7 linked regions of the Homo sapiens genome follow. The protein of the gene in region 1 purifies or fractionates together with the protein of each later gene. This does not show direct contact. Each region holds a gene or a part of one and is shown in the gene's direction. Other genes may lie near its edges.

Region 1 (3,479 bases):
TTCTGTTGACATTTCTTCAAGCTCATAGATCCTTCCTCATCTGGATCCAGTCTACTGAGGAACCATCAAAGGCATCCTCATTTCTGTTACAGTGTTTTCTACTTCCAGCATTTCCTTTTGATCCCTCCTTGGAGTTTCCATCTCTCTACTTACATTGCCCTTCTGTTCCCCATCTGTTCTTGCCTGCTTTTCCCCTGGAGCCCTTGCCATATTAATCACAGTTATTTCAAATTTCCTGTTTGATAATTCCAACATGGGTGCCATATCTGGATCTGTTCTAATGTGTGCATTGTCTCTTCACACTCTATTTTTTTCCTTAAGACCTTGTAGTCTGCCTTGTAATGTTTGTTGAAAGCTGGACGTGATGTATCTGGTAATAAGAGCTGAAGTAGATGGGCCTTTAGTGTGAGGTTTATGTAATCTGGCCAGGTTTGGGGCAGGGTTTAAAGTCTGCTGTAGCTGTGGGCACCAGAGGCTTCACATTTGTTTTCATTTCCCGGGTTGCCCTTGGGCTTGCCTAAATCCTCCTCCTCAGAGAGAGTCTGCGTCTTGTGGCCCTCTCTGCTGGAATCCCTGTCACACTGCGGAGGCCCTGTGGGTGTGTTGGGAAGATGGTGGGGAGGGAACTGTTCCACAGTCTGTGACCAAATCTCAGTCTTGGGGGCCTGTGCCCCTTCACAGTTGTTGATCTGCTTTTCCCCTCCCCTTAGGTGAGACAGGCTAAAGCGGGGTACAGGCTGAAAAACAGTCCTCCCCCAAGTGAGATAAGCCTTTCCTTTGGAGAGCAAATTCCATTTGCTGTGGAGAATGCTCTGGGTGTATTTCACAGTGGTGACTGTCCCCATCCCATGCCAGAGCCAGGAAGGGATCATCCTTGGCTTCATTAAGACCTGGCAGGGTTCCTGGAGGGGAAACCCACAAAACGTTGGGGGCCTCATAAGACCGCAGCCGCAGGAGTTCTGCACACGGCCCCGGCCGCTCCCCAGAGCTGCCCAGGAGGTGTTCCCACACACCATCAGTTCTGCTCCAGGCCAGCAGGTCTCAGCTGTGACTTTGCTCACCTGTCTCTCCAGACTTGGGGGTCGCCGCAGCGCTTTGACCTCAGCTCTCTGATAGGTCCAGGAAAAGTCATTGATTTTCATTAGTTCAGCATTTTTCCTGTCGCAGGGATGGGAGTGAGGCCTTCCACGTTGTTTACCGCAGAGCAGAAGCCAGAAGTCCTTGCTCGTCTCTGTGTTTCTTCGTCGGAGTCATGTCTTTTATTTCCTGAACGCAGGTGTGTGGTCAGACAGGAGATTGGCAGGTATTTCCTCCTGTTCCATGGGCTATCTTTTCTCTTTCTTGAGGGCATCATTTGCAGCAGGGAAGTCTTGGACCTTGACGTTGTCCGATGTGGCTGTTTCCTCCTTGGCTGCTCTGCTTTGTCTAAGGATCCATCACCTCAGCTGAGGCCACAGGGATTTACTCCCACACTTTCTTCTAAGTCTTGTATAGTTTCAGCTCTTGCGTTTAGCTGTGTGATTCATTTTGGGTTAATTTTTATGAACAATGTCAGGTGAGGGTCCAGCTTCATTCTCTCATCGGTGGATATCTGACTGTCCTAGCACCATTTGCTGAAGAGAGGATTCTTTCCCCATTGAATTGCTTTTGACATCATACCTTGTTTTTTGACTTGCCGTTTTATCCCATTGGTCCAGACGTCTGCCCTGCGCCGGGACTGCACCATCTTGATAACTGTAGCTTTGTAGCAAGCTTTCAAATCAGGATCTGTGAATCCCCCAGTTTTGTTCTTTTTGGACATTATTTGACTGTTCTGGGTCCCTGGCATTTCCACTGAATGCTGAGGGGTCTGACAGTTGCATCTGAGCTGCCAAGCAGGTTTGTGGCGGTGCTAGGGACTGAAGCCTGCTCCATTTCCCAGGCCCCTCCTCGCTGTGGGTGACATCTGGGGTCCGAGGCTGTGTCTCAGCATGTGTGAAGGTGCCACAGGTGCCCTGAGATGGGGATTCCTGGTCCAGTTACTCAGAAAGTGCATCCAGGAGAGACCCCCGCCCTTCTCGGGATGGGAGATGCCAGCAGAGCTTGGCTTTCAAGCAGAAATCTGGAAATCCTGTGGGGAGTGGCTTCGGACTTCAGGGGACCTGGAGCGTCACTTGCGGTTCAAGAGGTCCCTGCCCTGAGGGAGCTGGGCTCTCAAACACCCACACCAGTCAGTCATGGGCGAAGGGCCCCTCTGTGGCCTTCTGACTGTGTGTGTGCTGGCAAAGGGTTCCAGCCACCCAAGGAGGAGGCAGGGGCTGTCAGAGGAAGAGCAGGGCAGATCCAGGCCAGGCACAGACCCTGCCATGGGGTACTGCTGGCGGCGCTACACACACCTTGGGAAGGGAGTCCCTGTGGAAAGGGGTCGTGGTCACACATCTAGGTGACACAGCCCGGCTTGGGCGCTGCTCAGAGCCACCCCTTCCAGATGGTTCTGGAGCAGCTCCTCAGGCTTCTGGTGGCCTCTCTGCCTAGGAAAACATGGCTGTGGACGTTGCAGGATGACCAACAGCCCCTGCCACTGGGCTGCACACAGGGCCACGACGGGCGCTCATGTTCTGCATCACTGGCGCCCACCCCAGCCCCTCCCACCTTGTGTCGCTGTGAATCGCAGGATCCCAGCGGCTCAGTCGGACCCTCATTCCTGAGTAGTCTGAGCCTTAGGTCACCGTCACCTTCTCAGGCCGGCCCGAGTTTGCAGACTTGTCTGTCTATATCAGGGTTAGACCAGAGAGTGCTGAGACACAGCAGATCACCCAGCCTGTCCTCTTCTTGATGACTAAGGACAGGTCCCCTGCCAGGATCGTGACTCCTTTAGGGGAGGCCACAGTGACAGGGCAAAGCCTGGAGGGAGAGAGCCACATGGAGAGGAGAGGGCTGCCCGCAGAGAGCGTGGGAGTCTGCCGGCTTCTTCTCGAGTCCTTGGCAAGGTGCTGGCCGCTCACACCGTGTACGTGTGGGGAATGCCCAGGACCAGGGTGACACCACCAGGAGGAGCGGGCGGGACAGTCCCCACTCAGGGCTAGGAAGAGAGAGTCCACATTCCCGCTGCCAGGGTGAAACCCTCACACCACCACAGATCCAGGAGAGACACGGAGGGCACTGCCTCGGGGTGGGGAACGTGAGCTGCTCCCCAAACCCAAGAAATGTGTTGAGCCCTATGCTTCCTTCCTCGTGGGAAGAGGCGCAAGGTGAGACCGCTTGTCCTTTATCTTGGCGGGCACGTCCGAGTGTGACGCACGTCAGCAAATCCCTGAACCGTTCATCGGAGAACAGCCTTCTGCATCTCCCACACTCTGTTCGTGGGTTTACAGGGTGTCCAGAGTACTTGCCACTTGGCAATCAGCATTAATAGGATCCACAGGGCCAGGCATGGTGGCTCACGCCTGTAATCTCAGCACTTTGGGAGGCCGAAGCAGGCGGAGCACCTGAGGTCAGGA
Region 2 (3,500 bases), on another chromosome or scaffold:
CTGGCCTCTGGAGATGTTTTTTTTATTTATTTATTTATTTATTTATTTATTTATTTATTTATTTATTTATTTGAGACAGGGTCTTATTCAGTCACCAATGCTGGAATGCAGTAGAATGATCACAACTCACTGCACCCTCAATCTGCCAGGCCCAAGCAATCCTTCCACTTCAGCCTCTCGTGTAGCTGGGACTATAGGCACACACCACCACACTCGGCTAATTTCTGTATTTTTTATAGAGACGGGGTTTTGCCATGTTACCCAGGCGGTCTCAAACTCCTGGACTCAAGTGATCTGCCCACCTCTGCCTCCCAAAGTGCTGGGATTACAGGCATGAGCCACCGGGCCCGGCCACTCTGGAGATTTTTAAGGGCCTTGCCAATGAGACTGGGGACACAAATAGGATGACTCCTCAGTTGAGGACACAAATAGGATGACTGAAAAGGTGTTTGCCACTATGAATTAGTGCACATTGCGGTTCTCCTGAGTCTCTTTGGCAAATAATAGTTAAATACTCACCTACAAATAGTTCTCTTATGGTTGATTAAAAGCCCAGCTTTCTACTATATAAACATAGCAAGTCTTTTTAACTCTGTATATATTACTGTCATTGTTATCATCTCCAGATGAAATAGAGCAGCCCAAACATGATGGGCCTTACTCTCCACGTTGATTCTAAGAAGAAGAAAGAAGCAGCATAGTTTTCAGTGGCTCTACAATTTCACATTGTTGTTAATTTCCTGAAAACTTGATGTTAAATGAAGTGTAATTGCAGATTTCCTTAAGAACCATTGACAGATACTTATCCTAAGTCATAAGCAACTCACACTGTGAAATGTGTGCAAACATTCTAAGTTTTCTTCTAGAAGAATATACTTCAGTGATACCCAATATTCACCAGCCCTTTTTGATAAACAGAGCCATTGAAGCTCAACATGGAAGTTGGGGGAAATTTCTTTTTTTACACTTGATTTTTTTAAGGGGATTAATGTTGCCAGAACTTCCATTGTTTTTCAGACAGTGAAAAGAGTCTTTAGTAAGTGTCATCTCAGAGACCTTACAACTTTTGGCTAAGAGGGCTATATTTTGAATGAGATAGTAAACTAGATAGTAAATTATGGTGTATTTAGGTACTGGCATTGTATGATAGAGAGGGGAGTTTGATTTGTTTTTTAATTGTTAGGTGGTCTATTTAGTGCAGCTGTGTTTATGTTTCCTTCATGGTAACCGCCTGAACATGGTGACAAGTCCCTACAAATGAGAATAGGAATTTTAAAAAATTATCTTGCCAGTGGGCTTTAATTTGGGGGGGTCATAATTATTAAGTAGCATTGGTAAAAATAATCCCCGGCACAGTCATTCAGTACAGTTGTTTTGCTGTATCAGACATTTTGACAACCTTGTAAAAAGAGTAACTGAGTCCAGGCATGGTGGCTCATGCCTGAAATCCCAGCACTTTGGGATGCCGAGGCAGGCGGATCACCTGAGGTCAGGAGTTCGAGACCAGCCTGGCCAACATGGCAAAACCCCGTCTCTACTAAAAATATAAAAATTAGCCGGGCATAGTGGCGCATGCCTGTAATCCCAGCTACTCGGGAGGCTGAGGCAGAAGAATCGTTTGAACCCGGGAGGCGGAATTTGCAGTGAGCCAAGATCATGCCACTGAACTCTAGCCTGGGTGACAGAGTGAGACTCTGTCTCAAAAAAAAAAAATAATAATAATAATAATACTTGATACCTTAAGTGCTGCATTTCACAGTAGAATAAACTTGGAAATTATAGAATTTCCTTAGAATAGTCACACTTCTTTACCCATTGTTTTGGCTGATTTACTTCTTTGCTATTAAAAATGGGTGCCTAGATCATAATGTACATCAATTCTGTGGAAAATTAGCAATTCCATGTTTTTGCTGTCTTTCTCTTTAAAAAATAATAAATGAACATGGGGTCATGACTGCAGCAAAGAGACAGTTGCCTGTGACAGAGAAAATGTATATAATAAGTAAATAGCTCTGTGAATTACTCAGTACTTTCAGAATTGTATGTAAGATATGAAATGTGGAGGTGCAAGGTCCTAATGACTAGTTTTCCGAGGCATTTTCTTTAGTGTTACATCCCTCATAACTCAAATGAATGTTTATTACTATTCTTTCATATTGCCAAAATATTTTCATGAATTTGGATTAGAAGCAGCTTGTTCTGGCTTGTTTTGCAACTTTGTTTCAGGAAACAAAGTGATATTTAGAAGATTTTTGTATGTCATAGAAGCTTTAATTATCTTACTTATGTTGAAGGAGATCAAATTCTGTTTCAGAGTTATGTAAGAAAATAAGAGTTTATACTATGCTAATTTTATGTTGCCAGATAATTAATGTCTTTCAAAAAATTTGAATCCGTGATTTGAACAGGGTTCGCTGTTAAATAACCAGCAATGTAGAGTCTACTTTAAATTCAAGAAGACGCTACTTGGTCCAGACCTACCTGGGCTAGCCTTTATTTTTATTTTTGGATTCACAGGTGTTTACCCTTATCTTTCCTTTCTTTCCCTCCCCTTCTCTCCACAGATTGGTGAAAGACAACAAGTGTTAGTAACAGAAGAATCTTTTGATTCCAAGTTTTATGTTGCACACAATCAATTCTATGAGCAGGTAAGAGGCACTTCAGTATTCTTGAGTTTTCTCCAAAGTGAGAAAGAGTTCTGAAAGTTTAAGCAAAGGGCATTTAAAGGGGAGAGTGTTGAATCTTGTCACAACAAGGCTGTTTTATCGCTTCAAGCCAGCCAGGCTAACATGGACTTTATCTTTGTGACTTACTCTACAATATGTTCTGTACAAAGGAATAGGTGTATTTAGTCTATTTTAGTTCACATTAATCTTTGACAGGACCAGCTTTAGGCTTTTGGGCGTTTGGAACCAGGCAATTAGCACTGCCAGAATTCCCACACCCTGGCAAAGCAGGGGGGAAAGTCCTGCTCAGACCACAGGAAGGATGTCTGCATGGGCGACAGCAGCATGAAAGGGCAGGGATTTCCTCTCGCTGGTACATCACCCGGACAGTTTTTTTAGTTGGTTGGTTGATTGGTTGGTTGGTTGGTTGGTTTTTTAGTTTTGTTTAGTTTTAGCATCTGTTTTTTTAACTTCTACCTTAATAAAAATGCTGGGAGCAGAGGAAAAGGAGTCTATTCCTTGGACTCAACTCTAATTGTATGAACAACTGTGCAGACCAGTGTGAGGATCAAACCAGCTTCACTGTGAGAGCTTTGAAGGCCATCCCTAGGGGCGCCCCCAATTACTAGCCCTCCTTCCCTGGCCATCTAAGTTGGCCTGCCTTTGCCCACCGAGGAGCCTGACTTCTGTTTCAGCATCAGGGTTTCTACTCCTCCAGGTGGGAGAGCAATTCAAAAGTGACTGAGGAAAAGAGAGTGCCTCTTTCAGGGTCATTGACCCTGGCAAGGGCCAAGGCCAGGGAAGAGATGGGATACGCCCTCCTCTCCCATCTTA
Region 3 (4,188 bases), on another chromosome or scaffold:
TTTTTTTTTTTTTTTTTGAGTTTGGGTCTCGCTCTGTCACACAGGCTGGAGTATAGTGCCACAATCTCAGTTCACTGCAACATCTGCCTCCTGGGTTCATGCAATTCTCCTGTCTCAGCCTCCCGAGTAGCTGGGATTACAGGTGCGTGCCATCACCCCCGGCTAAATTTTGTATTTTTAGTAGAGACGGGGTTTCACCATGTTGGCCAGGCTGGTCTCAAACTCCTGGCCTTAAGTGATCTGTCCGCCTCTGCCTCCCAAAGTGCTGGGATTACAGGCGTGAGCTACCCGCGCCCCGCTCCCCCCACCATTTTTTTTTAATTTTCAAAATTTTTGTAGAAGTGGGGGTCTCGTTACGTTGCCCCGGCTAGTCTCAAACTCCTGGCCTCAAGCGATCCTCCTGCTTTGGCCTCCCAAAACGCTGGGATTACTGGCGTGAACTACCATACTCTGCCCTTTATTCTTACAGAGATTTTGAGGTCTAAGAATGTGGACTTTAAAGATTTCATTATCAGATTATGCATTTAGCACGGAATGACAATCTGACAGCCGTGTACAGCGTAAACCGGCGGAGAGGGCTTGGCACTAAAGGCAAACTGTCTTTTAAGAACAGGAAAAAGAAAGGTAATATATATTTTAAGGAGGTCCCATTTTAGGGGAGATAATAAGCTTGGGTTAGGCGTCCGAAGTCAGAAGATATAGTAAGAAACACACACGCAAACTCCAGCAGCCACCAGCTAGACTTGAGTAGAGAGAGCAGGTCCAAGTGGAGGTGGAAGTTGGAAAGTTGCATCTGCCAGGCAGGGCGAAAGTGGCCTACACCCACTCCTGGAGCACCCTGCTTGACGAGCAAGGTAGACGAGGCTGAGGGATACTGCTGGTGATGACGGTGGTCGTGGTGATGGTGCTGGTAGCTAACAGATCTTGAGCGTACCAGGCCCTGAGCTGAGTCCTCTAACGGGCAGAATGTCGCTGCATACGGACAGCAGCCTCAAGAGGACAAGGTGATTTAGTGACTCTAGCCTCTTCCCGCGGTGCCAGCCTGATTTCACCCTCTCCGGAACACACAAGCGAACCTCCGGGGAGGGAGCCAGTATCGGGTCCTAACGCAGGGAAGCGCTCCGCTTTCTGAGAGGGACGCGCCAGCGGAGGGACAGCCAGGGCCCGGCCTCTCCTGCTCCTGCCCCGCCCCGCCCCCGGCAGTGCCCCCTAGTCCGCCAGAGGGCGACTCCGCGGGTCGCCCAACCCGCGACCGGTCCACGCGGCACCCGCCTCTCCCTAGGCCCCCGCCCTGCCGGCCCGCGCGCGCCCGACGGGAGCGTGCGGGGCGGTGGGCGCAGGGTCACGTTGGGCGGCGCAGACAAAGGCGGGCGCGCGCACGTCCTGACGCAGCTTGGGCCCGCGGCGGCGGCAAGGGCGGGAGGGAGCGGTCGCCGCGGGATTTGGAGCTGCCTAGCCTCGCGGTCGGTGAGTAGGAGGGAGCTGGCCCCTTACCTCAAAGTCTCCGACCTCCGGGGAGCCGAGAGCGGGACGTGGGAGCCGGGCTTGGGCGGCCGCGCGGGGCCTGCGGTCTGGGACGCCCCGGCGACGCTGCGCCGGCGTCAGGAGGCACCATCGCCGCGCCCCGGGGATCCCCGGCGGGTGGAGCGGGTGCCCCCCGTCCGGGATGGAACGGTCCGCGCCCGCCCCGAACCCCGGCCGCCCGCCTCTCCGCTCGCCTGCTCTCCGAGCCCGGCTCCTCGGAGCCCCTCGCCTCCCCCAAGTCCCAGGTGTGCGCAGCCCTCCCGCCCCGGGAGTCCGGGGATGTGGGTGGCGAGGGCTGCTGGGCGTTGGAGCACCAGGAAGCGCCTTCCCCTGTCATTCCCCTTCCTGTGTTCTCTGGCTGCCGTAAGATGCATGTCTTTACCCTCTCCTTCTCCAAATGCATGCTCCCATTTTTCTTTAGGATTTCTTAACTCCTGAAATCCCTTGCCTTTCCTTTTTTATTTCAGCACCCTCTGAGGCATCCTTCTCCCAGTGGGGCTTGTTTATTTCCTCGCTTTCCATGTCACAGAGGGCTGAAGTTTAGCTGTTCAGAAGTTGCAGAAAATAGCTTATAGGAGACATACGGTGTAGCACGATGGAAATAAGTTCCATCCTCTGCCAAGTATTACCATGGATCTTCTCATGGATAACCTTGAGGTCATTTGAGGAATTTTGTTTTTGGTTCATTTTCCTTAATTTTGGCTGAACTTTGAGGAGCTCTCCTTAGTTTCATGTCTTGTAGATTCTATCTCAATCCAAGGGAAATGGTGTGAAGAGCAGTTATACCATACCAAAGTCTCCAGACAAAATCCTGTAATAATGCCAATCAAATATACTTCTCTCTTTGAAAGAGATGTGCTTTTCTTTTCTTTTTTAACTTTGTATTTTGGAGAATTTCAGACACAGGGAAATAGATGGAATAGGGAACCAGCATGTACTTGTTCTGGCCTCCTCAGCCACTTAACTGTGGCTATTCCTGTGCCATACACACCCCACCCATTTCCCCTCCCGTATGTCTCAGGGAGAACTTGATGCAAGATGAGTCTGTCAAAAGTAGCTTCAGTTCCATAATGAAAACCACCATACCAAGTCATAAGGTGCTTTTTGTTTTGGAACACAGCCTACTCATGAGGTCTTCAGCTAAGAAACACAGTAGAGTTGAAGAAAGAGCACAGCAAAAGGTATCTTAACATGATAGAACAGGTTAAAAGAAAAAGTATGGCCGGGCGTGGTGACTCACGCCGGTAATCCCAGCACTTTGGGAGGCCGAGGCGGGCGGATCACCTAAAGTCAGGAGTTCAAGACCAGCCTGGCCAACATGGTGAAACCCTGCATATACTAAAAATACAAAAATTAGCCGGACGTGGTGGCAAGTACTTGTATTCCCAGCTACTCGGGAGGCTGAGGCCGGAGAATCGCTTGAACCCAGGAGGCAGAGGTTGCAGTGAGCCAAGATTGCGCCGCTGCACTCCAGCCTGGGCGACAGAGCGAGACTCGTGTCAAAAAAAAAAAGAAAAGAAAAAAAGTGTTTCAGATCTGGATGAGAACATTCGGAACGTCCTGTTCAATGTTTTCATTTTTTTCTGAGCCCTTGGAGGTCCAGAGAAGTTCAGTGACTTGTCCAGAGCTGCAGGTCTTAAGAGGCTGAAATCTCGCCTCTGCCTCGAGGCTGCGGTTCCACTGACCCATACTACTTGCCTTCAGGAAAGAGAAATGGTGTAGGAAGGCTGTGGATGAAGACGCTTACATTCATGAAGGATTTGGATAGGCGAACATGAGCTTTTCCACCAAATTTCAGAATTTTAAGAAATGCCTTAAATTATTTCTTAAAAATCAATTTGGGGCAGACGAGAAGTTCTGATAATAGTTTTTAGGGAACATGATAAAATTCTGACCTTAGAAGTGGTATACCAGTTTGAGAAGAAGAACAAGCTATAAACGGTGTAGATAACATTCACGGCTATTTAAGAAAGAGTTACTAAGGGAAACCAGAATGACTTAAGAGTGTTACTCTTCTTTTTCTGAGAGAACAATAGCATCATCTCAGAAAGCCTTTCATGCCATTAATAGGTAAGAATCTGGGCTTCTTGGACCATGGGTTAGACTTTCTTACAAAACCATAATATGCATTTCCTAGCAAAATTTATGCTATTACATTTCCTTATCTCAACAAAGACTGGTAAATTCAGTACTTATTCCTCAATTTTCCTACCCTTAAAATGGGGATATTCTGCCTCTCCAAGGAATGCTGGGAACAAGCAAGTCCTCATGTTAGGGGTCTTTGAGTTTTCATGGAAGTTTAGGTTATTTATATGATGACATAGTTGTCAACTTACTTTCAGGATGGACTTTTCTTTTGTGAGTTTGTGACCTAAATACAATAGTTGTTATGCATGTCCAGTTTATGGAAGTACCACTGCAATAACAGCATTTGAGTGTCATGGTAAATCATTACCCCTAAAGATAGAGGAGGGAGGAGGAGGCAACTGTTGTGTGTCTATTTTGTGTTTGGTGTGAGGAGTGTTGTGGCTAGGCTCTTCAGAGGCTAGCCTAACTTGCTAAGTGGTTTCTGCTAAAGAAAAACCCACTTTTCTTGTGTGTGCTTGTCACCACAAGTTAGCTTTTATTAAAAACAAAACAAAACTCTCTAAGCTATCTGGAGAT
Region 4 (3,500 bases), about 13 Mb from region 1:
TTGAGACCAGCCTGACCAACATGATGAAACCCCGTCTCTACTAAAAATACAAAAATTAGCCGGGCGTGGTGGGGCATGCCTGTAATGCCAGCTACTCTGGAGGCTGAGGCAGGAGAATTGCTTGAACCCGGGAGGCGGAGGTTGCAGTGAGCTGAGATCACACCATTGCACTCCAGCCTGGGCAACAAGAGTGAAACTCTGTCTGAAAAAAAAAACTTAAGCAAAGACGAGGGAGGAATATGTTTCCAAGATCCCAGGGTTTCTCCTAGAATCCGGTAAGGAAGCAGGGGTGCTGGAAGCTGGTCCCAGGCTGTGGTCAGGATCCAAGACTGAGTGGCCAGCAGTTCTTAGCCTACTTCCACAGCCCCAGGAGAGCACTTGGTTGGCCCAGCCTATGGCAGGTGTCCACCTGAGGGTCAAGAAAGGCCAGCTGTCAGAGAAAGAGGCTTGCAGGGGGCAGACACCCAAAGAGATGTTCCTTTGCTGGAACAAGACTCACCCCCGTCTTGGGTGTTCTTTACTTCTTTACATCTACAGTGCAAGCCAGTGGAATGAATGTCTACATGTCCCGAAGTCTTGAATCCATTAAGGGGATTGCGGTCATGGACAAGGAAGGCAATGTCCTGGGTCATTCCAGAATTGCTGGGACAAAGGTAAGAGACAGGATGAAGCTATAGCTGCTTGCCTTTTGGGCAACGACTAGACTTTTCTGTTTGAAAGCCGGTGACAAATTCATGTCTGCCTTCAACCTTTCTTTACCCGTCTTTCCTTAGCATGCTGAGAGAGAAATTTCTCATTTTGCCCCCTGATAAGATGGGGCATTAGTCTGGGTTCTCTGGAGAAACAGAACCAATGGGATATATGTACATAATCTTTCTTTCTGAGACAGGGTCTTGCTCTGTCGCACTGGCCTGGAGTGCAATGGTGCAGTCTTGGCTCACTGCAACCTCTGCCTCCCTAACACAAGCGGTCCTCCCACCTCAGCCTCTCAAGTAGCTGGGACCACAGGCACACACCACTGCACCTGGCTTATTTTTGTATTTTTAATAGAGACGGGGTTTCACCATGTTGGCCAGGCTGGTCTCGAACTCCTGGCCTCAAGTGATCCACCCACCTCGGTCTCCCAAAGTGCTAGGATTACAGGCATGAGCCACCATGCCTGGCCCCCAATTCCTTTTTGAAATCTCTCAAAAGAAAAGCATGCACCTCTGTCTCCATTGTCCCTCCCATTCACTCCTGAGTTCAAGTGATCCTCCCACCGTGGCCTCCCAAAGTGCTGGGATTACAGGTGTGCACCACCGCACCTGGGCAGTACATGTCTATTAGGAGATTTGTTCTAAGGAATTGGCTTACACAATTGTGGGAATCTGCAGGGCAGGCCTGGAGGCTGGAAACTTGGACAGGAGCTGCTGCTACAGCCTTGAGACAGAATTTCTTCTTTGGGAAACCTCAGTTTTTGCCTATAAGGCCTCTAACTGATTGGATGAGGCCCACCCACATTGTGGAGGGTAACCTTCTTTTCTTTTTTTTTTTTTTTGAGACGGAGTCTTGCCCTGTCACCCAGGCTGGAGTGCAATGGCGTGATCTCAGCTCACTGCAACCTCCGCTTCCTGGGTTCAAGCGATTCTCCTCCCTCAGCCTCCTGAGTAGCTGGGATTACAGGTGCGTACCACCACGCCCAGCCAATTTTTGTATTTTTAGTAGAGGTGGGGTTTCACCGTATTGGCCAGGCTGGTCTCAAACTCCTGACCTCAGGTGTTCCGCCCGCCTCGGCCTCCCAACGTACGGGGATTACAGGTGTGAGCCACCGCGCCTGGTGGTAACCTGCTTTTCTTAAAGTGAGCTGATTGCAGACGTGCCCTGTGTCTGCAGAGTACCCCTACAGCAACAGCTAGATGAGTGCTGGATTAAATAACTGGGTACTGTTGCCATGGTGACCCGTGAGGCTGACTGCCACAGACAGGCATCTGACAAGTGCTGGGTACCTCTGAGAGTGAGATCCTATTCTTCAAATCCAATATCTGCCCTCCCAGTGTGTGCTGATTGGGGGCCACTCCCCTCCCAGCCTGCTCTGCACTTACAGAGGTCAGTGGACACCCCTTTCTGGGGTTAAAAGAGCCCCTGCTTCTCCCATTCAGCAGATGTCCTTATAGTCTTCATTGCTAAGGACTACTTTTGTCAAGAATGGACTTAGAACATTGAATTCTCTGATCCAAAACTCCTTTTCAAGGCCTCAATTCTGAATAATTTTTACTATTAGTTTCTTCTTTTTCTTCTTCTTTCTTTTTCTTTTCTTTCTTTTTTTTTTTTTTGAGACAGGGTCTCCTTCTGTCGCTGGAGTGCAATGGTGTGATCACGGCTCTACAGCCTCAACCTCCCAGGCTCAGGTGATTCTCTCACCTCAGCCTTCCAAGTAGCTGGGATTCTAAATATGCACCACCATGCCTGGCTCATGCTTGTGCTTTTTATAGACATGGGGTTTCGCCATGTTGCCCAGTCGTGTCTCAAACTCCTGAGCTCAAGTGATCTGCCCACCTTGGCCTCCCAAAGTGCTGGGATTGCAGGGGTGAGCCACTGGGCCTGGCCAAAGTATTCTTTTGTTCAGTTCAACACAGTGACTACTGAGTGCATTCAGCCGTGAGAACCTGGTATAGTCTATGGTCTTTTCATTTTGGGTGTGGACTTTTAAAATAATATGTTTTTAGCAGGTGAGATCTTTTTTGGTCCCTGTGAAATGACTTTAGCTGAAGACTTTAGTTGTTTGCAAATGACATATCAAGCAGAGTGGAACAGCCCTGATATGAAGTGAAGGGACTAACCGGGCTTCTGGCAGTGTGGGATCCAGAGGACTCCCTTAGCCAGCCAGGGTATGTCCTTCTACTGACCAGCATGTTGGTGGCAGGGAAGCTCAGAAAAGATGGTTGTTCATTCCATCGGTAAATACGTCATTATTCAGCTCACCAAACATATTACTTTAAATCCTATCACTGACTGACAAAGCTGAATTATAAACTATCAGATACATGCTAATGGTATTTCCACTAGACCATCTAGTAGCATAGCTCCTTACCTAAATGAATTATGACAGAGATAAAATAATTATAAGTAACAGAGAAATTGCTGCCAGTAAGAAAATAGGTCACTAGTTTGAAATGAAGGTTCTGGGCCTAACAAACCACCCGTAAGTTGGATCACTTGCAGTCGGTCAGGAGTTCGAGACCAGCCTGGCCAACATGGTGAAACCCTGTGTCTACTAAAAAGGCAAAAATTAGCTGGGCATGGTGGCGGGTGCCTGTAATCCCAGCTACTCGGGAGGCTGAGGCAGGAGAATTGCCTGAACCTGAGAGGTGGAGGTTGCAGTGAGCCGAAGTCGTGCCATTGCACTCCAGCCTGGGCGACAGAACAAGACCCCATCTCAAAAATAACAAACAAACAAAAACCACCTGGGACTGCATTTGCGCTTTCCCCTGGGGAAAAAAAAAAACGCCCGAAAGAGACAT
Region 5 (3,500 bases), on another chromosome or scaffold:
TCTTTGCCAACTCAGCATTTGGGGGCCTGGGACGTTGCCTCTCCACAGGAGGGTAGGTGTGGGTATGTCAGGTCCCTCAGCCATCCCCATCTTTCCCTGATGTGTGCTTTCCTCCCAGTGCCTCAACGCAGTGAGGACAGTGCAGAGTCTGGCCTGCCTGGAGGAGGCGGACCACACCGTGGGTTTTATTCTGCAGCTCTCTAACTTCATGAAGGAGTGGCACTTCCACCTGCCTCAGCTCATGCGTGATATCCAGGTGGGGGCCCAAGATGGTGTCTTGGAGTCTGGGGTAATGCTTGGAGACAGGGAGGCTGTGAGGTCTCACTGGGGCACTCCTAGTGAATTGCAGGATGTTCCTGAACGGGGGCTTTTCCCTTGGGGAGCACAGGGTTTGCTGTCATGTGCTTACTCTGGCTAAATGTTTCCTTCCATAGTCAAGGGCAGCCATGTAGGTTAAGAATTTGGACTTTTATCAGTTAGATCTTGGTTCAGATCCCTTAAGAATACACTTGGGGCCGGGCATGGTGGCTCACGCCTGTAATCCTAGCACTTTGGGAGGCAGTCAGGAGTTCGAGATCAGCCTGGCCAACATGGTGAAACCCTGTCTCTACTAAAAATACAAAAATTAGCTGGGCGTGGTGGCACGTGACTGTAATCCCAGCTACTCGGGAGGCTGAGTTGGGAGAATCGCTTGAACCTGGGAGGCGGAGGTTGCAGTGAGCTAGGATCGAACCATTACACTCCAGCCTGGGTGACAGAGCGAGACTCCGTCCCAAAAAGAAAAAAAAAAAAAAATGGCCGGGTGCAATAGGCTCACGCCTGTAATCCCAGCACTTTGGGAATTCAAGGCGGGAGGATCATGAGGTCAGGAGCTCGAGACCAGGCTGGCCAACATGGTGAAACCCCATCTCTACTAAAAATAACAAAAATTAGCTGGGTGTGGTGGCACACGCCTGTAGTCCCAGCTACTCAGGATCGGGAGGCTGAGGCAGGAGAATCGCTTGAACTCAGGAGGTGGAGGTTGCAGTGAGCCGAGGTCACGCCACTGCACTCCAGCCTGGTGACAAAGTGAGACTCCGTCTCAAAAAAAAAAAAAAAAAACTAAACTAAACAAAACCAAAAAAACACACACAACTGGAGCTGGGAACCAGCTGGAGAAGGGAGGGGTGAGGAAGGAACACAGGCTCCAGAGCCAGGCAGGCTTCTCTTATCTGCTGGTTGTATGACCTTGGCCAAGTCACTTGTTACTTGTAACCTTTTATTCTTTTCCTATAAAATGGAATCAGCCATAATCCTCATCTTATTTTATTTATTTATTTATTTTGAGACAGAGTTTTGCTCTGTCGCCCAGGCTGGAGTGCAGTGGTGCCATCTCGGCTCACTGCAAGCTCCGCCTCCCGGGTTCACGCCATTCTCCTGCCTCAGCCTCCCGAGTAGCTGGGACTACAGGCGCCCGCCACCACGCCCGGCTAATTTTTTGTATTTTTAGTAGAGACAGGGTTTCACCGTGTTAGCCAGGATGGTCTCGATCTGCTGACCTCGTGATGCGCCTGCCTCGACCTCAAAAGTGCTGGGATTACAGGCATGAGCCACCGCACCCGGCCTCATCTTCTTTACTTTAGGACCTTACAATATACCAGGCACCTAGCTGGGTCTCAGGGAGACAGTCCAGTCCTGAGCCCTGCTGGCCCAAGTTTGTAGCCCTGAGTACTTAGTGGCTATAGGGGCTTTAAGCTGGAAAGTGGCCAGGGGAGCATGAGGGAAGGAGGGAGAGAAGGGGAGCATGAGGGAAGGAGGGAGAGAAGGGGAGCATGAGGGAAGGAGGGAGAGAAGAGCAGCAGCGAGTGAGGAGCGCATGGGTGTTACATGGAGGGCTATTGGGTTGGTCTGGTTGGGTGACTGGGCTGCTGACAAGAGAATCCGCTCATCTCTCCTGTGTCTCTCCCAGGTCAACCTGGGTTACTTGTGCCAGGCATGTACCTCTCTCCTGCACAGTCGAAAGATGCTGCAGCATTACTTACAGGTAAGCGTCCTATGCCATGAGGTCCTGGAATACCTCACGCTAGCTTCCCAAGCTCCACCTTCATTTCTTGACTCTCCTTAGAACAAAAATGGGGATGGCCTCCCCTCAGCTGTTGCCCAGCGAGTCCAGAGGCCACCGTCTGCTGCTTCTGCTGCCCCCTCCTCCTCAAAGCAGCCCGCTGCTGACACAGAGGCATCAGAGCAGCAGGCCTTGCACACAGTCCAGTATGGCCTTCTCAAGATCCTCAGCAAGACGCTGGCAGCCCTGCGCCACTTCACCCCAGATGTCTGCCAGATTCTGCTGGATCAGGTACTGCCCATCATCTGTTCAGCACCACCTCCCCTAAAGGCTCTGCTCTGCTGTGTACCGAGAGCTACCTGGGGCCTTAATTGGGTCCTGGATGGCTCTTGTCTTTTCTCGCAGTCCCTGGACCTTGCTGAATACAACTTCCTGTTTGCCCTGAGCTTTACCACTCCCACCTTTGACTCCGAAGTGGCCCCCTCCTTCGGGACCCTTCTGGCCACAGTGAATGTGGCCCTCAACATGCTTGGAGAGGTAAGTTGGTTCTGTCAGACACTGTCCTCTCCCCCCGGCTCCTCCCCCTGCCTGCCACTTCCCAGCTGACCTTGGGCATGTTGGGCATGGTACCTAGCCTCCCAAGCCTGCTCCTCTCTGTAAACTGAACATGACAGCACCTCTGAGAATTACTGTGAGGATTAAATGAGGTAACTGATTAAATTTGCTTAGTGCAGGACATGCAAGTAGGAAGCTCTCAGTAAGTGGGAGCTGTTCCTGTTGTCTTAGTTTTTTACCCTTGCTTCTCTTCAGCTGGACAAGAAAAAGGAGCCCCTCACCCAGGCAGTGGGGCTCAGCACACAGGCAGAAGGGACCAGGACGTTAAAGTAAGTGCTCTTTCTGGGATTTGATAAGGGGCTGGGGCAGTCATGGGCCCACTGTTCTCAAGCTTGGCCAGCCTGGCCCTCTGCAGCAGTACCAAAAACCTGTGTCTCCTCCCAGGTCCCTCCTGATGTTTACCATGGAAAACTGCTTCTACCTGCTCATCTCTCAGGCGATGCGGTACCTTAGGGACCCGGCTGTGCACCCCCGGGACAAACAGCGGATGAAGCAGGAGCTCAGCTCTGAGTTGGTACGGATGGATAGGGATACGGAGGGCTGGACCAATAGGGCCAGAGCCCTGTGGGGTCCTGCCTGGCAACCCCCAAGGGTCAGAACAGTAGCCAGATGTGCTGAGCCTCACCAAGCCACTTTTTTTCTTGTAGAGCACGCTGCTGTCCAGCCTCTCGCGCTACTTCCGCCGGGGAGCCCCCAGCTCCCCTGCCACTGGTGTCCTCCCCTCGCCGCAGGGCAAGTCCACCTCTCTCTCCAAAGCCAGCCCTGAGAGTCAGGAGCCTCTGATCCAGTTGGTGCAGGCGTTTGTCCGGCATATGCAAAGATAGGGCAGTGCTGTTCTGCCCAC
Region 6 (3,500 bases), about 45 Mb from region 1:
TTTTTACTGGAGATGGGGCTTTGCCATGTTGGTCAGGCTGGGCTTGAACTCCTGACATCAGGTGATCCACCCATCTCGGACTCCCAAACTGCTGGTATTACAGATAGGAGCCACTGTGCCCGGCCTCCTACTATTTGTTATAGGAGCTTTTGCCAAACATACAACATTTCTGAAGATATTAATCTTTGTTTGCTTGATGTTTTTGTATCTTACTATTATCTGTGTTTATATTTTCTTTGTGCACAATCTGAATATTCTTTTTATGATATGTAAGTATTTGTCATGTACCCTTTAATTTTCAAGCAGTTTAAACCTATATTTTTTTTAATCTAGAAGGCTTCTAATTTGTTTGAATAGAATATGCATAACTACTTAATAGAATGCTTGCCCTATCAGTATAGTTAATAGAATGTTAATACTTACTGCCGAGCGTGGTGGCTCACACCTGTAATCCCAGCACTTTGAGAGGCCGAGGCAGGTGGATCACGAGGTCAGATCGAGACCATTCTGGCTAACGGGGTTTAGTAGGAATCCCATCTCTACTAAAAACACAAAAAATTTGCCAGGCGTGGTCGCGAGTGCCTGTAGTCCCAGCTACTCAGGAGGCTGAGACAGGAGAATGGTGTGAACCTGGGAAGCAGAGCTTCCAGTGAGCCAAGATCACGCCACTACACCCCAGCCTGGGCAACAGAGCGAGACTCCGTCTCAAAAAAAAAAAAAAAAAAAAAAAAAAGAATGTTAATTGTTACTTAATAATAGAATACTTGTCCTATCAATATCAGTATAGTTAAACAAAATAAGGTCTACTTAAATAGAAAATAAAGTGTATTTTTCTCTACTTTCCTTTCTTAGCATTTCCCCCACAAGTTCCCATGAAATTAAACTATAAAGGCTGGGCATGGTGGCTGGTGCTTGTAATCCCAGCATTTTTGGAGGCTGAGGTGGGAGGATCACTTGAGCCCAGAAGTTCGAGACCACCCTGGGCAATATTACAAGACCCCATCTCTACAAAAAATGAAAACATTATCCAAGCGTGATGGTGCATGCCTGTGGTCCCAACTACTAAGATGGGAGGATCCCTTAAGCCTGGGGGGTTGAGGCTGCAGTGAGCTATGATTGTGCCACTGCACTCTGGCCTGCCACACTCTGGCCTGAGCAACAAAACGAGACCACATCTCAAGAAGAAAGAGAAATGAAATAAAGCTATTCGGATTCATTTTTAGGAAAAAAAAGTCATGAAATAAATGTCATGAAATAACCTAATATAGAAATACAGTAAGTATAGGTAACTCTAAAACTTGACTAGATTTGGCCTGTCTTTGATAATAAAAGGCATTTGGGCCTTTGATGTGCCGCATACCCAGCACTACTGTGAACTTGTGCATCCTTACATGGAGTCTGTTAACGTAAGTTAATATGAGTTAACTATCTCGCTCACACTTTTATAGGAGTGCCTACTGATTCTGAGATATGGTGAATTGAAGTCATCTTCAGCCTGTTAATAGCCTTCATAATTTTTAAAAGGTCTTTCCTCTTCCCCTAAATCTCAAACACATTTTATAGTCTTGAATGGTTTCAGACTTTATTCAGTCATATTTGTCACCCATATCTGCAATATCTCCAGCTTAATTTTATCAGACTTGACAAGTACCTAATAATTCCAAAGGTCAAAAAGTGATTCATTGGAATACTGAAAGAAAACACAGCTTAAACTCTAGTAATTTGATTTATTTGCTTAATGTGCAAAAGCCTCATTGACCCAGGATGCAGTTAAATTGACGTCTTGGCCCAGAAAGCTTTGAAGCCTAGGAGGTAGGCAAAGGGAGTTTTTTCTCTCACTCCTCGGCAAACCTTCAAATTTGATGTTATTTATCTGTTATTTCCTGACTGCCCATTCCACAGAGAGTGTCAGATTGAGGCTCAGACCTGAGCCTGAACCCTGATCCTGTCACATGTGTGTTTAGCATCAGCTTGTAAATTTCTGCAAAACAAAAGAAAAAAAGAGGCTGGGATTTTTATAGGAATTTCATTGAATCTGTACACTAATTTGTGGAGTATTGCCATCTTCCCCACCCTCCCCAAAAAGGTTTTGTCCTTTCACCCAGGCTGGAGTACCAGACAGCAGTCACTGCAACCTTGACCTCCTGGGCTCAAGCAATCCTCTCACCTCACCCTCCCAAGTAGCTAGAACCACAGGGGTGTGCAACTGTGCCTAGCTAATTTTTTAATTTTTTGTGGAGACACGGTCTCATCACGTATCCCAGACTGGTCTCAAACTCCTGAGCTCAAGCAGTCTTCCCACCTCAGCTTCCCAAAATTCTGGGATTATAGGCATGAGCCACTGCACCTGACCAGTATTGCCATCTTAACCATATTAAGCCTTCCAATGCTGAATATGAGATGTCTTTCCATTTATTTAGGTCTCTTGATTTCTTTCAATGATGTTTTGTAGTTCTCATTGTAGAAGTCTTACATAGAAGTCTTACAACTAAATATTTTACTCCTTTTAATGCTATTGTAAGTGACATTGGTCTATAGTTTTCTTATGATGTCTTTGTCTAGTCTTTGTATCAGGACAATTCTAGCCTCATGGAATGAGTTGAGGAGTGTTCCTTCCTCTTCTGCTTTTGGAAAAGCTTTTGAAAGGTCAATGTTCATTCTCTTGTGTGAGTGTAAATATCACCTAAGTTCTGCAGGACCCTGATGTCTCCACCCTTCTCATCCCCTTATATCTCTGTGTACCAAAATTACCCTTTCATCTCCTACTCTATAGTCACATGCTGTTAGAAAAGTTGCTTTTTTAAAAAAGATTAACTTCTGCCTCATACCTGTTCTCTATATAAGAATTTATCTGTTAGGCCAAGCATGGTGGCTCATGCCTGTAATCCCAGCACTTTGGGAGGCTGAGGCGGGTGGATCACCTGAGGTCAGGAGTTCGAGACCAGCCTGGCCAACATGGTAAAACCCCGTCTCTACTAAAAATAAAAAAAAATTAGCCAGGCAGGTACCTGTAATCCCAGCTACTCAGGAGGCTGAGGCAGGAGAATTGCTTGAACCTGGAAGGCGGAGGTTGCAGTGAGCCGAGATCATGCCATTGTACTCCAGCCTGGGCAGCAAGAGTGTAACTCCTTCTCAAAACATAAAAATTAAAAAAAAACAAAAAGAATATATCTGTTATTCAGGAACTACTTGTTTTTTGTTTTTGTTTTTGTTTTGAGACAGAGTCTTGCTGTGTCACCCAGGCTGGAGTGTAGTGGCACGATCTCAGCTCACTGCAAGCTCCGCCTCCCGGGTTCACGCCATTCTCCTGCCTCAGCCTCCCAAGAAGCTGGGACTACAGGCGCCCGCCACCACGCCCGGCTAATTTTTTGTATTTTTAGTAGAGACAGGGTTTCACTGTGTTAGCCAGGATGGTCTCGATCTCCTGACCTTGTGATCCACTCACCTCGGCCTCCCAAAGTGCTAGGATTACAGGCATGAGCACCGCACCCGGCCTCAGG
Region 7 (3,500 bases), on another chromosome or scaffold:
TATAAAAACAAAAGACATTTTAAAGTTAAAACTACATTATTTATGTAGAAGACAGTTTTGGACATCAGTTTCTTTTATTCATTGCCAATAGAATTATGGCAGGGATTTAAGCACGAAAAACTCAGCATTATTTTATTTCTGTGTGTACGCTTGACTCTTACGCTACTGATAAGGCCTGCCTTTGAAATACCCTCAAAAGAAAAACATGATAACCCCACTGTGTTAAGTTACATGAGCCTTATCATGCCCTGCTCTACGGCTTATGAATCCACAACCTGTCCACTTGGTAGCTTGTAGAATATTGCTCAAGAGCAGATTTTCAGGGATGTTTGCAAACTGCCCCCCATCACTGGGTCTTATGCTTATGTCCCTATGCAGGGGACTGCAGCTGTGGTAACTCGATGGCTGTTGAAAGCTAAAGATTTGTTAGCATCAGTTTATAGACCTGTTTGGTTTCAAAGTTAGTTTCAAAAACGCAGGTGCTGTGGCTCTCGACCCCACTCTGAGCAGTGACTTCCTCTCTTGGAGATGGTTTCTTCATCGCCTATAAAATGGGGATACTGATGCCTCCCTTGCAGGCTTTTTGGTAGTAGTAGCCAACTTTTTGCTTGGGATGAGAGTAGATGCACCTTATACGCAATCTCATTTAAGCTCCATAACAGTCATATGAGGTAGCTGCTATTGTCCGCATCTTATAGATGAGAAAACTGAAGATTGGGGGAGTGACATTATTTGACTAAGTTTCTACAGCTAGTAAAAGGCAGAGCTGGGATCCAATCTCCTAACCTTTCCCCCTTTAGCCAGTGTGCTTATCCTCTGCCAGTGAGTTGCCAGGATGCTGACATTCCCTTTATGGGGAGGTTAAAGTGAGATAATGTAAAGGGAACATAGTTGGCACGTACCAGGCCCTTGCTAGATTTTGGGTAGTTCTGAAGGGATATTTTCTTTTCAGAGGTCTTTGCCTTTCCTCTTATTGCCAAAGTTTAAATAAGGTATATTGATTTGTTGACTAGTTGAATTAAAGCAGTACATCTCAAGTGGGAGTGATTTTGCCTGCCAGGAGACATTTGACAATGTCACAACTGGGGCGGGTGGGGAAGGTGGGCTGCTACTGACATCGAGTGGGTAGAGACCTGGAATGCTGCTAAAAACACGGCCCCCACAACCAGAATTACCCGGTGCAAAATGTCACCAGTGGGGAGGTTGAGAAACCCCAGGTTAGAGAGATCCCCAAATTCTACACCCACCCCTCAACACACACACTCATAGTTTTATAGTCTGACTAGTGAATTTTTCTGTTGCTTGGCCTTCACAGGTTTCCGAGACACTAAAGCGTTTTGCAGGGAAGGTGACAACAGCCAGTGTAAAGGAACGGAGAGAAATCCTCAGTGAACTTGGGAAGTGTGTTGCTGGAAAAGGTATTTATTTTTCATCCACATACCCTGGACAATATTCATTGTTTTTCTTTCTTTCTTTTTTTTTTTTTTTTTTGAGACAGAGTCTCTCACTGTTGCCCTGGCTGAAGTGCAATGGCACGATCTCAGCTCATTGCAACCTCCACCTCCTGGGTTCAAGCGATTTTCCTGCCCTCAGCCTCCCGAGTAGCTGGGATTACAGGTGCCCATATCATGCCTGCCTAATTTTTGTATTTTTAGTAGAGATGGGGTTTCTCGAATGACAGTGTTCCATATCAAAAATAAATTTTGTGGTTTTTTTTGTGTTTTTTTCTTCTTTTTGAGACAGAGTCTCACGATGTCACCCAGGCTGGAGTGCAGTGGCACGCTCTCGGCTCACTACAACCTCTGCCTCGCTGGGTTCAGGCGATTCTCATGCCTTAGCCTCTCCAGTAGCTGGGATTACAGGTGTGCGCCACCACACCCAGCTAATTTTCGTGTTTTTAGTAGAGATGGGGTTTCACCATGTTGGCCAGGCTGGTCCTGAACTCCTGATCTTAAGTGATCCGCCTGCCTCAGCCTCTCAAAATGCCGGGGTTACAGGCACGAGCCACTGGGCCCAGCTGAAATTGCCTTTCTTTAGAACCATGGCCTTGGCCAGGCACGGTGGCTCACGCCTGTAATCCCAGCACTTTGGGAGGCTGAGGTCAACAGATCACAAGGTCAGGAGTTTGAGACCATCCTGGCCAACATGGTGAAACCCCGTCTCTATTAAAAAAAAAAGTACAAAAATTAGCCAGGTGTGGTGGTGTGCACCTGTAATCCCAGCTACTAGGGAGGCTGAGGCAGGAGAATTGCTTGAACCTGGGAGGTGGAGGTTGCAGTGAGCCGAGATTATGCCACTGCACTCTAGCCTGGGCAACAGAGTGAGACTCAAAAAAAAAAAAAAAAGCCTGGGTGTGGTGGCTCACGCCTGTAATCCCAACAGTTTGGGAGGCCGAGGCGAGTGGATCACGAGGTCAGGAGTTCGAGACCAGCCTGACCAACATGGTGAAACCCTGTCTCTACTGAAAACACAAAAATTAGCTGAGCATGGTGACGCACGCCTGTAATCCTAGCTACTCAGGAGGCTGAGGCAGGAGAATCGCTTCAACCTGGGAGGCAGTGGAGGTTGCAGTGAGCTGAGATCGTGCTACTGCACTCCAGCCTGGGCGACAGAGCAAGACTCCGTCTCAAATAAAAAAGGAACCATGGCCTTCTTCCCCCCTCCCTGCACAACTTCTGCCTTTACTTTATTTCCTTGCTATAGTGTGAATTGCAACAGTTAAAACTTTTGGGTTCATGGAGAGTTTATCCATTCAGGTGTGAAAGCTATTTACACTTTTAACCATTTTGTTTGGAAATATTTAAAAAAGATAGCTAAAACCTTTCTCAAGTAGTATACAGAGTACAAAAACTTTTTTTTTTTTTTTTGAGACGGAGTCTCACTGTGTTGCCCAGGCTGGAGTGCAGTGGCATGATCTCAGCTCACTGCACGCTCTGCTTCCCGGGTTCATATCATTCTTCTGCCTCAGCCTCTGGAGTAGCTGGGACTACAGGTGCCCACCACCACACCTGTCTAATTTTTTGTATATTTAGTAGAGACAGGGTTTCACCGTGTTAGCCAGGATGGTCTCGATCTCCTGACCTTGTGATCCTCCCAAAGTGCTGGAATTACAGGTGTGAGCCACCGCGCCCAGCCAAAAACATTTTTTTTATGACTTGGGATATCATTTTTCCCAATCTGTGTTCCGTGGAAGTCAGCACCATGGTAGTAGGTGATTGGCCAATAAAGGATTCCAAGATCAAATAAGTTGGGAGAGGTTTTTTTTTTTTTTTTTTCTTTGGTGAGACAGAGTCTCCCTCTGTCACCCAGGCTGGAGTGCTGTGGCGCGACCTCTGCTCACTGCAACCTCCGCCTCCCGGGTTCAAGTGATTCTCCTGCCTCAGCCTCCCAAGTAGCTGGGATTACAGGCACCTGCTACCACGCCCAGCTAATATTTGTATTTTTAGTAGAGATGGGGTTTCACCATGTTGGCCAGTCTGGTCTTGAACTCCTGATCTCAG

Evidence for each region.
Region 2: the proteins of STK32C (region 1) and CDKAL1 purify together in Homo sapiens (affinity purification with mass spectrometry; one large-scale study listed by BioGRID and IntAct). This does not show direct contact.
Region 3: the proteins of STK32C (region 1) and GPAT4 purify together in Homo sapiens (affinity purification with mass spectrometry; one large-scale study listed by BioGRID and IntAct). This does not show direct contact.
Region 4: the proteins of STK32C (region 1) and SFXN4 purify together in Homo sapiens (affinity purification with mass spectrometry; one large-scale study listed by BioGRID and IntAct). This does not show direct contact.
Region 5: the proteins of STK32C (region 1) and NUP188 purify together in Homo sapiens (affinity purification with mass spectrometry; one large-scale study listed by BioGRID and IntAct). This does not show direct contact.
Region 6: the proteins of STK32C (region 1) and GLUD1 purify together in Homo sapiens (affinity purification with mass spectrometry; one large-scale study listed by BioGRID and IntAct). This does not show direct contact.
Region 7: the proteins of STK32C (region 1) and GCN1 purify together in Homo sapiens (affinity purification with mass spectrometry; one large-scale study listed by BioGRID and IntAct). This does not show direct contact.

What each region holds. Positions count from the first base shown.
Region 1 is NC_000010.11:132,210,472-132,213,950, reverse strand, and holds part of STK32C (serine/threonine-protein kinase 32C), read left to right. Parts: intron 1-3,479.
Region 2 is NC_000006.12:21,195,457-21,198,956, forward strand, and holds part of CDKAL1 (threonylcarbamoyladenosine tRNA methylthiotransferase), read left to right. Parts: intron 1-2,564; coding exon 2,565-2,648; intron 2,649-3,500. UniProt on the Homo sapiens protein: Catalyzes the methylthiolation of N6-threonylcarbamoyladenosine (t(6)A), leading to the formation of 2-methylthio-N6-threonylcarbamoyladenosine (ms(2)t(6)A) at position 37 in tRNAs that read codons beginning with adenine.
Region 3 is NC_000008.11:41,576,812-41,580,999, forward strand, and holds the start of GPAT4 (glycerol-3-phosphate acyltransferase 4 isoform 1 precursor), read left to right. Parts: upstream 1-1,388; 5' UTR 1,389-1,467; intron 1,468-1,494; exon of another isoform or gene 1,495-1,557; intron 1,558-1,704; exon of another isoform or gene 1,705-1,769; intron 1,770-4,188. UniProt on the Homo sapiens protein: Converts glycerol-3-phosphate to 1-acyl-sn-glycerol-3-phosphate (lysophosphatidic acid or LPA) by incorporating an acyl moiety at the sn-1 position of the glycerol backbone. Active against both saturated and unsaturated long-chain fatty acyl-CoAs.
Region 4 is NC_000010.11:119,152,215-119,155,714, reverse strand, and holds part of SFXN4 (sideroflexin-4), read left to right. Parts: intron 1-537; coding exon 538-653; intron 654-3,500. UniProt on the Homo sapiens protein: Mitochondrial amino-acid transporter. Does not act as a serine transporter: not able to mediate transport of serine into mitochondria.
Region 5 is NC_000009.12:129,003,199-129,006,698, forward strand, and holds part of NUP188 (nucleoporin NUP188), read left to right. Parts: intron 1-118; coding exon 119-256; intron 257-1,948; coding exon 1,949-2,023; exon of another isoform or gene 2,024-2,099; intron 2,100-2,104; coding exon 2,105-2,332; intron 2,333-2,446; coding exon 2,447-2,578; intron 2,579-2,851; coding exon 2,852-2,925; intron 2,926-3,040; coding exon 3,041-3,170; intron 3,171-3,281; exon of another isoform or gene 3,282-3,303; coding exon 3,304-3,480; 3' UTR 3,481-3,500. UniProt on the Homo sapiens protein: Component of the nuclear pore complex (NPC), a complex required for the trafficking across the nuclear envelope. Required for proper protein transport into the nucleus.
Region 6 is NC_000010.11:87,070,844-87,074,343, reverse strand, and holds part of GLUD1 (glutamate dehydrogenase 1, mitochondrial isoform a precursor), read left to right. Parts: intron 1-3,500. UniProt on the Homo sapiens protein: Mitochondrial glutamate dehydrogenase that catalyzes the conversion of L-glutamate into alpha-ketoglutarate. Plays a key role in glutamine anaplerosis by producing alpha-ketoglutarate, an important intermediate in the tricarboxylic acid cycle.
Region 7 is NC_000012.12:120,188,216-120,191,715, reverse strand, and holds part of GCN1 (stalled ribosome sensor GCN1), read left to right. Parts: intron 1-1,315; coding exon 1,316-1,418; intron 1,419-3,500. UniProt on the Homo sapiens protein: Ribosome collision sensor that plays a key role in the RNF14-RNF25 translation quality control pathway, a pathway that takes place when a ribosome has stalled during translation, and which promotes ubiquitination and degradation of translation factors on stalled ribosomes.